Linked DNA regions of Homo sapiens: region 1 is linked to region 2. The links come from fine-mapping of genetic effects on gene expression. A gene starts in region 2. The other region holds a variant in brackets. All regions are shown on one strand. Distances are from middle to middle. Region 1 overlaps NRF1 (nuclear respiratory factor 1). Region 2 holds the start of NRF1 (nuclear respiratory factor 1).

Region 1 (5,372 bases), 140 kb after region 2:
ATGTATATGTTAGTTACTGCCTTACTGGGAATCCTTTTTTTTAATGTATTATCAGCTTTCCCTTTTTAGGCAGGACTACCTTTATGGAGGTTATGTGCTTCTTCCTTTAAGCCATCCTTTCTACTCTGAAATAATAGTGATATTAGGGAGTAGCTGGGGTCTTTTTTTTTTAAGTTGACCCCAAAATGTGTTTTTACATTTTACTGGTGTGTGAAATCTAGAAATCAGGAAACAAGTGACCTAGGCTTTAAAAATAAATAAATAAATAAAATAAGCTTGACTATGAAGGAAGGCACATAGACGGAGCAGTGGCCAGAAGACAGGATAGGAGAGGGACAAGATTTTTCTTTTCAAGCTGAGAGAGACTTAAGCATAGGCAGAAAGAGGGTTGAAGAAGGCAGTGTAGCCAAATATCAAAGAAAAATAATGGTGGCCTGTTCTGAGAGGGAGAAGACAGGCCGGGGACATTCACACCTGACGGGCCTGTGCTTCCTAGATGCGGAGGCAGGCAGGGCCCTCTCACGGCAAGCTGGGAAGGCCCTACCCTAAGGCATGTTTCCACAATTTCTCTAAACTTTTCTTTTCTGATAGTCTGTTTTAAAAAAATCAAAATGGTCAGGGTTGGTGGTTCACGCCTGTAATCCCAGCTATTCAGGAGGCCAAGGTGGGAGGATCACTTGAGGCCACGAGTTCAAGACCAGCCTGGGCAACACAGCAAGACTCCATCTCAAAAAAAAAAAAAATTATATTAGCCAGGCATGGTGGCACACGCCTGTGGTTCCAGCTACTCAGGAGACCGAGGTGAGAGGATCACTTGAATCCAGGAGTTCGAGGTTGCAGTGAGCTGTGGTCACGCCACTGCACTCCAGCCTAGGCTACAGAGCCAGACCCTGTCTCTTAAAAAAAAAAAAAAAAAAAGTTAAAATGGAAAAAAGTTGATTTCCTAGAAGTAGAGAGTAGAATAATAGTTACCAGAGTCTGGGGAAGGGTTGGGGAGGGGGGCAGGAGAGGTTGGCCAGCAGGTGCAAAGGAAGAATAAGTTCTGGTGTTCAGTTACACAGTAGGGTGACTGTAGCGAATAACAATGTAGTCTGTGTTTCAAGATAGCTAGATTTTGAATGTTGTCACCACAATGAATGATAAATCTTTAAAGAGATTAATATGGTAATTTTCTTGATTTGATCATTCTACAGTGTATACATGCATTGAAACATCACATTGTACCCCATAAACATGAACAGTTACTATATATCAATTATAAATCTTAAAAATTAATGAAAAAAATTTTAATGGGGTGGGAAAGAGATGTCTTTGTGCCTGGGCCATGGGTATGTGATCACCTGAGGCTGGTGACCACGATACCTCAAAGGCAAGACTTGGGTGCCCCCGTCCAGCCAGCATCTGGGAACTTGAGCCTGAGCCCCACCAACGGTCTTCTCTTTGTCTCTCCAGGCCTGGTCCAGATCCCTGTGAGCATGTACCAGACTGTGGTGACCAGCCTCGCCCAGGGCAACGGACCAGTGCAGGTGGCCATGGCCCCTGTGACCACCAGGATATCAGACAGCGCAGTCACCATGGACGGCCAAGCTGTGGAGGTGGTGACATTGGAACAGTGACATACAGCCATATTATGGCATCGTTTTCTAGTCTACTTCAAAATTTTTTACACGTTTGCAGAGGTGCAATCAAATGGAATTAAGTCTCTCGACTTTGGAAGGAAAGTTTTGTTAACCTTTTTTTTTTTAAAAGGAAGAAAGCGGATTTTGGAATTGCATTTTTTAAAGCACCACTCTTGATTTTCTGGGATTGGTGAAGAAACTGCATTGTCAATTTCACTGTCCCAAAAAAGCCAAATTGTGGCAGGACTTCTTTCTGCGGAAATGTGTGTGTATACTTATGTGTGTGTATGTGTGAGTGTGAATATATGTATATGTGTACATATGGACATACACATTTACATATATATAAAGTATATATATACATATATATATATATATATGTATGAAACCCGCATGGAATTATCTGTATGAAATCAAGGTGCGCTGTGGAAACAATAATTCACCCAGTTTAGTGGGTGGTAGGGTACGTGGCCAGACACAGTCACCCAGTTTTTGTTCATACCAGGGTCATGCGTTGAGCTACTGACAAACTCAGGCGGAGGTGACCATGCCCTTCACCAAAGCTGCCTCCCAGTGGCCACACAGAACTCTCCCTGCTGGACTCACCTGAGGAAAGAGGCTCCAGCATGGGGTGGGTCAGAGATGTGCTTGCAAGGTCCAGGGACTGCGTGGTCTGCCAGCTGAGATGCTCCTCGGGCTGGCCCAGGTGCTGACCTTGCCACAGGCAGATGAATGTCTTGAAAGCTCCCGGGCCTCAGCCTCCCATCTCCTCTCCTTCCCAGGAATCCTTGATCTCATGACTATTAAAATGTTGCTCTGGTTTTAAGGTCAGTCCTGAATTGCTCGTATATATGAACTGAAGGTAACCGAAGTATTAGGGGTTTGAGGAGTGCGTGCGTGTAAGTGTGCTTGTGTGTGTGCGTGCATGGTGGGGGAGAGGATGGGAAGGGGGCGGGGGCAGTGGAAGGGAAAGGAAGGAAAGAAAAATCGTCCTAGACCAGGATACACCCGTGGGAGCAATTTTCTCTACTGTCTGTAGCTTCACAGAGGAGGCGCTGGAATGAACAAGAAGAGACATCTGGTCTGTGGCCACAGCACCCTGAACGCCCCTGATCTTGTGTGATCTTGGAAGCTAAGCTTGGTTGGGCCCGGTCAGTACGCGGAAGGGAAGAAGGGACACCTGGCCATAGAAAACAGCTGAGGGTGTTTGCTGTGTTCCTGGATCAGGCCCTGCTTCAGAAGGGACTCCTGGAGGCCCATGTTCCTTGATGCAACCTCGTGGCCCAGGCCGGGAGCAGCTTGCCTCCTCAGAGGTGT[T/C]GACTATCTGGGTGTTCTTGGTAACCGTTAACTCTGTCTTTCTCAGCTGCAAGCCCTGAGTCTCCAGTAGCTGAATTCACCTGACTTTTCAACAGGCCAAATCTCTGAACCTTGAGTACAGGGACAGCTCCTCCTCCCTCCTCCCAGCTCTCCCCATGTGTGTGATGGTGTATTTAATGTGTTTTTTTAATGCGACATTAAAAGATTCTCCACGTCTTGCTCAACCTTTGAGAGAAGTTTCAGATTCTTGTATTTGCTTGTTTTATATAAAACTATCTAATGTTCTTTATATGTTCTTTTCTGTACGTAATGGGGGGAGGGGAGGGAAATTTACATATAAATAGTCCTAGTTCTACAATTTGTTATTTTTTTAATTATTATTTTTTATCGTCATTGTGAAGTTGTCCAGGGACTTTAAAGTCCATGTTCCTTTGTGGTGAAATAACCTCCAAATAGTTTGAGAAGTTGCCAAGACGAAGAAAAAAGCAAAACCCCAGTAGCAGAGCATGGATTCTGTGTTGTTTCCCATTCTGTCTTTGACTGCCTCATTCAATAAATAGTTAAAAATGTGGCAACAGGAAGTGGAATTGTTCATCTCTATAGGAGCTCTTGGCTTCTTAGGCAAAAGGAACTCTATCTTGGGGCAGCTCGTTCTGCGTTTAAAATGCAGTCCTACTCGAGATCAGCGGTCTCCGACCTGTGCCACTCCGACGCTGGGGACCTCCGTAAAGAAGACACTGAAGATTGCCCAGAGCCCCCTGCGAGCCCCATCACCAGACCTGCTCCATTTCATACATTTCATATATAACGTGTTTTCTTATACTGACGTTCTGGGGAAAAAATCGTATTTAAAAAATCCTAGGCCGGGCACAGTGGCTCCCGCCTGTAATCCCAGCACTTTGGGAGGCCAAGGTGAGTGGATCACTTGAGGTCAGGAGTTCCAGACCAGCCTGGCCAACATGGTGAAACCTTGTCTCTACTAAAAATAGAAAAATTAGCTGGGCATGGTGGCGGGCGCCTGTAATCCCAGCTATTCAGGAGGCTGAGGCAGGAGAATCGCTTGAACCCAGGAGGCGGAAGTTGCAGTGAGCTGAGATCACACCACTGCACTCCAACCTGGGCAACAGAGCGAGACTCCATCTCAAAAAAAAAATAAAAATAAAAAATGAGGGTGAGTGATGGTGCCTCTCCATCTTGGGAATTACTATTAAAGTGAATTGTCTTTCTTTCTCCAAGCAGAAGCCTCAAGCCATGACTTGTTCCCCTGCATCCTCACTCCCTGGTTTCTCACACAGCTTACTCTCTTAACATGGCATATGCCATCGCTCCAGCTGTTCCTCCTGCCCCATCCTTAGGCCCTTCATAGACCCCAGTAGCCTGCACCTCCATGCTTCTGCATGCCCTGGCCTCAGCCTGGAATGACCTGCTGTCACCCCCACCACCCTTTCTTTATATTGTTGGGTGTCTTGGCCACTTTCCTGGTGACCATGATTAGAATGCTTGCTTGGATGGGAAGGCCAAGAAGCCTTTTCCTTGATGCCTGATGGTGGTTCAGTGAAGCCAAGTGCCTACCTTTCCCCCTTCTTGCACAAATGGCATACCCTCGCCTATTTTTCACCAGAGACTGGACTAGAAAAAGGATTGAGTGCAGCCAAATCAACCACACATCCGTGCTATTGACTACCATGAAATAGCTGGGTTGTTTAGAATACCTGCTGACCAAGGGTCTCTCCAGAGGCGTCTTCTAGCTGCTGTTTGCCTGGCAAGCCTCAGATGCTGCCTTTGCCACAGGCATGTATTGACAACTGGTTTTGGTGGGGCCGATGGAGACCTCTTCCATTCCTGCCTAAGTCACCAACAGGAGCTGCTAACTCCGCTGTCTATAGAGACCAGGGAGGTCAAATCAATGAAGGAAGCTGAGGCAATTCCCATGTGAGAGGAGGGAGTGATGGGGACAGGCACAGTGGACAGCATCCATCTAAACGGGGCAGCCTGTCCTAGGTGCTGATTGTCACCATGCAGGAAGATGGACCCTAATGCCCCAACTTCAAAATTGTCCAGAGAATCTGGGGAATCCAGATTTTTGTACGAGATGTGATCGCAACAAATAAAAAATTTACATACTCTGCAAGCAAAATAAAACCCATCTGTAGACCAGACCTGACCTGACGGTCAGTTGCACTTAACTACGTGAATGCTTGTCATGTGCCAGGTGAATGAAGCATGGTAGTTGCCTGTGAGAAACAAGGAGTGAGGAGGAGACCTTTACATAAACCAACCGCTGCAGTCCAAGGTGATGAGGCACCATCTGGACAGAGCACTAGTGCAGAATGAGCTGTTTACCGCATTTGAGCCCTCAAAGGTCCTCTGTTACGTAGTTTATCATCTAGGCTCCACACAAGGATCTGGTGCTCACAGAAACCAGGAGACTGGTCT
Region 2 (5,372 bases):
CGTTTGGGGCAGTAACCTCAGTTTGCTCAGAATGGTAAATGTCATTTAATCCTAAGAAGGTTCTGCATTAAAGATGAGGATAGTAAAATAAATCAGATCTGCAGTATTCATACTTTTGTGTTAACCTTGGTAATATTTTGTTTAATTTTGTATTTTCAATGTTTGTAAGATTTAGTATTTATCATATTAGAGAATCTGACAAGTTTCACGAAACAAGAGCCTTACTAAGTTTGATGTTCTCTGCCATTTTCTATTTCTTTAATGAAATGTTGGTAATGACCCACTAAGTTACTTATGTGTTTCATCAGTGGGTACTGGCCTGAGACCCTGATAATGGTTAAAAGTACAACTCTGAGGTCAGGCTGATGACTTTCAGATCTAGCTTATTGTCTGGGTTTGGGCAAGTAACCCCTATATGTCCTTGTTTCTTCATCTGTAAAATGGGATAATATTAGTAACTACCCAGGCCGGGCACAGTTGCACACCTGTAATCCCTGCACTTTAGGAGGCTAAGGTAGAACGGCTTGAGCCCAGGAGTTGGAGACCAGCCTGGGCAACAGGCATCTGCCTGTGGTCCCAGCTACTCAGGAGGCTGAGATGGGAGGATTGCTTGAGCCCAGGATGAGACTGCAGTGAGCTGTGTTTGCGCCACTGTATTCCAGTCTGGGAGATACAGTGAGACCCTGTCTCAAAAGTTAAAAAAAAGGTAGTACCTACCTTGTGGGCTCTACTTGATAATTAAATGAGAAAGAAGATAATGTGCATAAAGGCTTCCACTAGGGCCTGACGCATCGTGAGCGCTCAATAAACGTGGGGAGTACTGGGTGTGATGACAAAGGGTCTAATGCACCCAATCTTGGGAGATGAAAAAATGCTGCCTGGAGGCGATGGTATTAATGTTGGGATCTGAAAGAATGGTAAGAATTATTCAGGTGAGGATTCAAGTAAGTGCATAGATGGTGTAGAGAGAAATGAAGTTATGGGCAAAGGGAACAGCCCTTGCAACAGTTGTGAGGTGGCACAATTTCCAGGCTTAAATGACCTGAGAGCTTCCCAGTTTTGAGTGTAGCCTGAGAAATATCTGTGGCAGATGAGGTCAGAGATGGCAACAGGGATGAGATCACCAATGGCCCTGTAGCCACCTCAAAGAATTTTAGACTTTATCCTACGTGTTAATCAGATCTTTTTAAGAGTCTTAAACAGGGAAAAAACATGATTTTCTTTCTTGAAAGACCATTCAAGCTGTAGTGGATTTGGAGAGGGCAATTTCGGTGGCAGGGAGACCAAGAGGAGTCTACCGCAGTGTCTCTAGGAGAGATGACAGTAGCCTGAACCAGAGTAAGAACTGACAGGGAACAACAGTTTTAAAAATCTAATTGGGGCTGGGTGCAGTGGCTCACGGCTGTAATCCCAGCACTTTGGGAGGTTAAGGCAGGCAGATCACTTGAGCCTAGGAGTTCGAGACCAGCCCGGGCCAACAAGATGAAACCTCATCTCTACTAAAAATACAAAAATTAGCCGGGCGTGGTGGTGGGGACCTGTAGTCCCAGCTACTGGGGAGGCTGAGGTGGGAGGATCCTTGAGCCCAGAGAGGTCGAGGCTGCAGTGAACAATGATTGCACCACTGCCCTCCAGCCTAGGTAATAGAGTGAGAATCTGTCTCACAAACAAACACATCTAATTTAACATGGGGACTCCAGAGACAGAGGAAAGAGTAATGGATCATTTCCAGGTTTCTGGCTTGAGCACTTGGGTGGCTAGTGTTGGCACTCTCCTAGAAAACACTGGAGAAAAAGACATTCAATTTTTGGATATGTTGAATTTTGAGGTTAATAGAATCTTGAAAATTAAAGCTTCCTGATTTTGTTAATCCGTTTTCTGACACCCTTTAGCAATTCTTCAATGCAATGCTTTTCACATTATTATATGCATAAGAATCACCAGGGGTGTGGAGATGGGGATGTGAAAATGCAGGTTCCTAGGCAAACAAGCCAAGATTCTGGATACCAACTGGGTCCCAGGACTCAAAACAATCAGCCTGAGTAATTCTGATGGAGGGAGTCTCCTGACGACACTAAAAAAACAACAAAAACGACCCCTCTGCCGGGCATGGTGTCCTGTAATACCAGCACTTTGGGAGGCTGAGTCGGGAGGATCGCTTGGGCCCAGGAGTTCGAGACCAGCCTAGGCAACATAGGGTGACCACCCACCCCCGTTTCTAAAAGTAAAAAAAGACCCCTCGTGTGTCTCCACCGTTAGGTTGTTTTCCCACTGTCCACCCCTCCCTACTTCTCAGGCACCTGCTTGGGGGCCCCTATTGCTTCGAATAAGCTCCGTGGGAGCCAGGACTTTGTCTTGCTAACAGGTGCATCTTCAGCGCACTCAGAACAATATCTGGCACAGCACGAGACACCTAGAAATGTTCGCCGAACGATCGAATGGCTGAATACATTCATATGTTGCTTTGTACAAAAACTTGCTTTCAAATATCTGGGAAGAGTTAGAGATAGGAAAGCAGAGGTCATTTCAAAGAGAGAGAGTGAGGATACCACCGGGAAGGCAGCGCCGAAAAAACCAGAGGGGAACCACTTGCCGATCCCCCAGGCACAGTCTGGAGGTCCCAATTCCCGCGGTAGGGGGGCGAGAGATGCCACTCGTCTGATCAGCAACCATTTTGGGCCCGCTTGCGCCGCTTCTCCGGGGCGTCCGCGTTGTGCTCATCCAGTTGCTTTTGAGGTTCCGGCCCCCTCCAAACCTCTGAAGCGCTCCGTGCACGCGACGCGGCGGCGGGGTAAGCTGGAGCCCTCGCCGCGAGCCCTCTCCGCTGCCTGCCCGCAGCACAGCCGCGCCGACCTCCTCATCATGGCGGCGGCCGGGCGGGGAAGCCGGGCCGTGCGTCGCGTGCGTGCCCTCTCCCTCCCCTCCCCCTCCTCGGCGGCGGCGGCGGCGGCAGAAGCGGCAGCGCTCGCCATTGCCGCTGGTGGCAGGAGGCTGCGAGGAGCCGGCGCGGTCGCAGTCTCCACGGCGCAGGCCCACGGTAGCGCAGCCGCTCTGAGGTGAGTGCCCTACCGCGCAATCTCCAGCTATTTCAGCCCCGGCGCAGCCGCAACACGCCGCCCGCCCGCCGGCCGGCCGGCCCGCCCCGCAGCCGGCACCCTGCCGCCCCCGGCTCTGGGCCTGGGCCCCCGCCGGATTCGGCCCGCCTCGGGCGGGGGGCCCCGGCCCGGCCCAGCCAAACCGCCACCCCGAGGATGCGCAGGCCGCACTAGGCCCCAGGCGTCCTGGCGGGCTCGGGAGGGAGGCGCTGCCCTCCCGAGAGCCCCAGGGTTCCGGCCTCCTCCGCCGCCTGGGGCTCTCGGGGCCGCGGCCTTCTCCCCGCCGTGGAACCCGGGGCCCGGCCTTCCCGCAGCTCGGGAGCGGGAGGCGCGGGAGAGTGCGCCGGGCCCGGGAGCGGGAGGTGGGCGGGCTGCGCGGGACCGGAGCCGCGGCTCTCGGCTCGCCCCCTCGGCCCTTCCCGGCTCTCGTACGCGGGCGGGCGGGCGGGCGGCGCGGTGGGGCCGGGCTGGGGCGCGGGAGCCGCTGTCTCCTGCGGGAGAGGAGGCTGGCTCTTTGGGCGACCTCCGAAGCTTCCCTCCTGCCGGGGTGGCGTGGGCTTGTTACCCAGGTAGACTGGGGGACGCTGGAATATGGCGCGTTGCCCACCTTCTTGCAAGTTAGGAGGTGGCCGGGGCGGCAGTTCGAGGAGGAGGGCGCAAAGTCCTTTTGTACGCAGAAATAAGGAGCGACATTGTGTTTTCTTCCCCAGCTGAGATGTGCCCGCGGAGGGGCCGCGGTTCTTCCTGTGCCTGGGGTGGTGGTCCCCTGGGTGAGGGAGAGGGGGAGTGGCACGCCCCTCCGAAGGAACAGAACCTTTTGCCACTGGAAAGACAGGGGCTCTGAGATGGCCGTGTGCATGGTATTTTCCCATATCCCCAGACCTTTTCGGGTTTGTCATTGAATGTTGTGCACTCCATCGTGCAATGATGTCTGCTGCCTCTCTCACCTGTTGTGTCGTGGCTGCTGGTCCCAAAGTTTCTGCAGTGTATTTGGCTGTGCCCACCAGAACTTGAAGTTGTTTAAAAATCTTAATACTTGGGGGGCTTCCAGTGATATCTGCTCCAACCAGTTGGAGGAGCTGTTGCCTGCTCTCCATTCTTCTTAAGCATTAGATTAGAATATATTAATTGCTTATTTTAGAGCTGGTGTCAATCGTGCTGATTTCTTTATGTGGTCAGAGCAAAATTCACATTTTTTTAAGTGTTCAGAGACTGCGTATTGAGAGACGCATAAGGAGAAAGGTAGTGTGAGTGAGCCTGTCAGCTTGGGCAGTGTTGGGCAGAGCTTTTGTCCCGGGACATCATCTGTGCTCACAGTGATCCTTTTTCCCATTCCATCTCAGCCTAGCCTTTTAAAAAATTATTTTTCCTTTGGGCTTGACCAGTAAGTAATTGGGAAAGGGGGGTGCTGGAGTCTTGGAGATGCTGTTTGTGTGTGTGTGTGTGTTTGATTCATTAGTATCCCGACTCCCTAAAATTGTATTTGACAGTTCTTGACAGGTTACCCCGTAAGACAGTGAAAATATGACTAGTTCTCTCCGTGCATCTGAGTGTAATTTCCTTATTTTATGAGTCCGAAAGCAGACATAATTATCACATGCAATGTAGAATATTTATTCTTAACTTGGATCCTAAATTGTGGGCAGAATTTTTTTGTGTCAAGGGGTTTTTTTTTCTTTTGATAGGACTTAGTGGCTTTCAACAGGGCCCATGACCAAAAAAAACAATAATCAGATTAAGAAAACTCTTTACGGCCGGGTGCGGTGGCTCACACCTGTAATCCCAGCACTTTGGGAGGCCGAGGCGGGGTGGATCACCTGAGGTCAGGAGTTCGAGACCAGCCTGGCCAACATGGTGAAAGCCCATCTCTGTTAAAAATACAAAAATTAGCTGGGCGTGGTGGCAGGCGCCAGTAATCCCAGCTGCTGGGAGGGGCGGGGGCGGGGGCTGCCGAGGCAAGAGAATCGCTTGAACCTGGGAGGCAGAAGTTGCAGTGAGCCGAGATGGAGATCGCGCCATTGCACTCCAGCCCGGGGGACAAGAGCGAGACTTCATCTAAAAAAACAAAAACAAAAACTCTACTTAATCTTTTGGCCCATCCTTATTTGAAGTCCTTTAATTTCCTCACACAGCCTCAAACTCGACATATAGGAGGGAAAATGACTTTTTGCTTAGTAGTCAGTGGTCATAGTCTCCTGTAACAAAGAAAAGTTCTTATCCCCAAGTCGGCAATTTTTGTGGAAATAGTTCTCTTTTTCTTTTTCTTTTCTTAGACGG

What was found. PIP is the estimated chance that this variant, and not a neighbour inherited with it, causes the effect.
Region 1: its variant is the best candidate, but not a certain one, in a credible set for the expression of NRF1 in whole blood (TOPMed, PIP 0.51).

Annotation. Positions count from the first base shown.
Region 1 is chr7:129,753,566-129,758,937 of GRCh38, forward strand. It overlaps NRF1 (nuclear respiratory factor 1), which reads left to right. Exons shown (of 11, transcript NM_005011.5): 11 at 1,453-3,511. The coding sequence ends at 1,616. It also overlaps the pseudogene RNA5SP244. Among named protein-coding and RNA genes, the nearest start is that of MIR182, 14 kb to the right of the region's middle. The variant T/C (reference allele first, on the strand shown) is at 2,937.
Region 2 is chr7:129,608,769-129,614,140 of GRCh38, forward strand. It overlaps NRF1 (nuclear respiratory factor 1), which reads left to right and starts at 2,952. Exons shown (of 11, transcript NM_005011.5): 1 at 2,952-3,056. RefSeq lists enhancers at 2,370-2,419, 4,100-4,239 and a silencer at 2,810-3,799.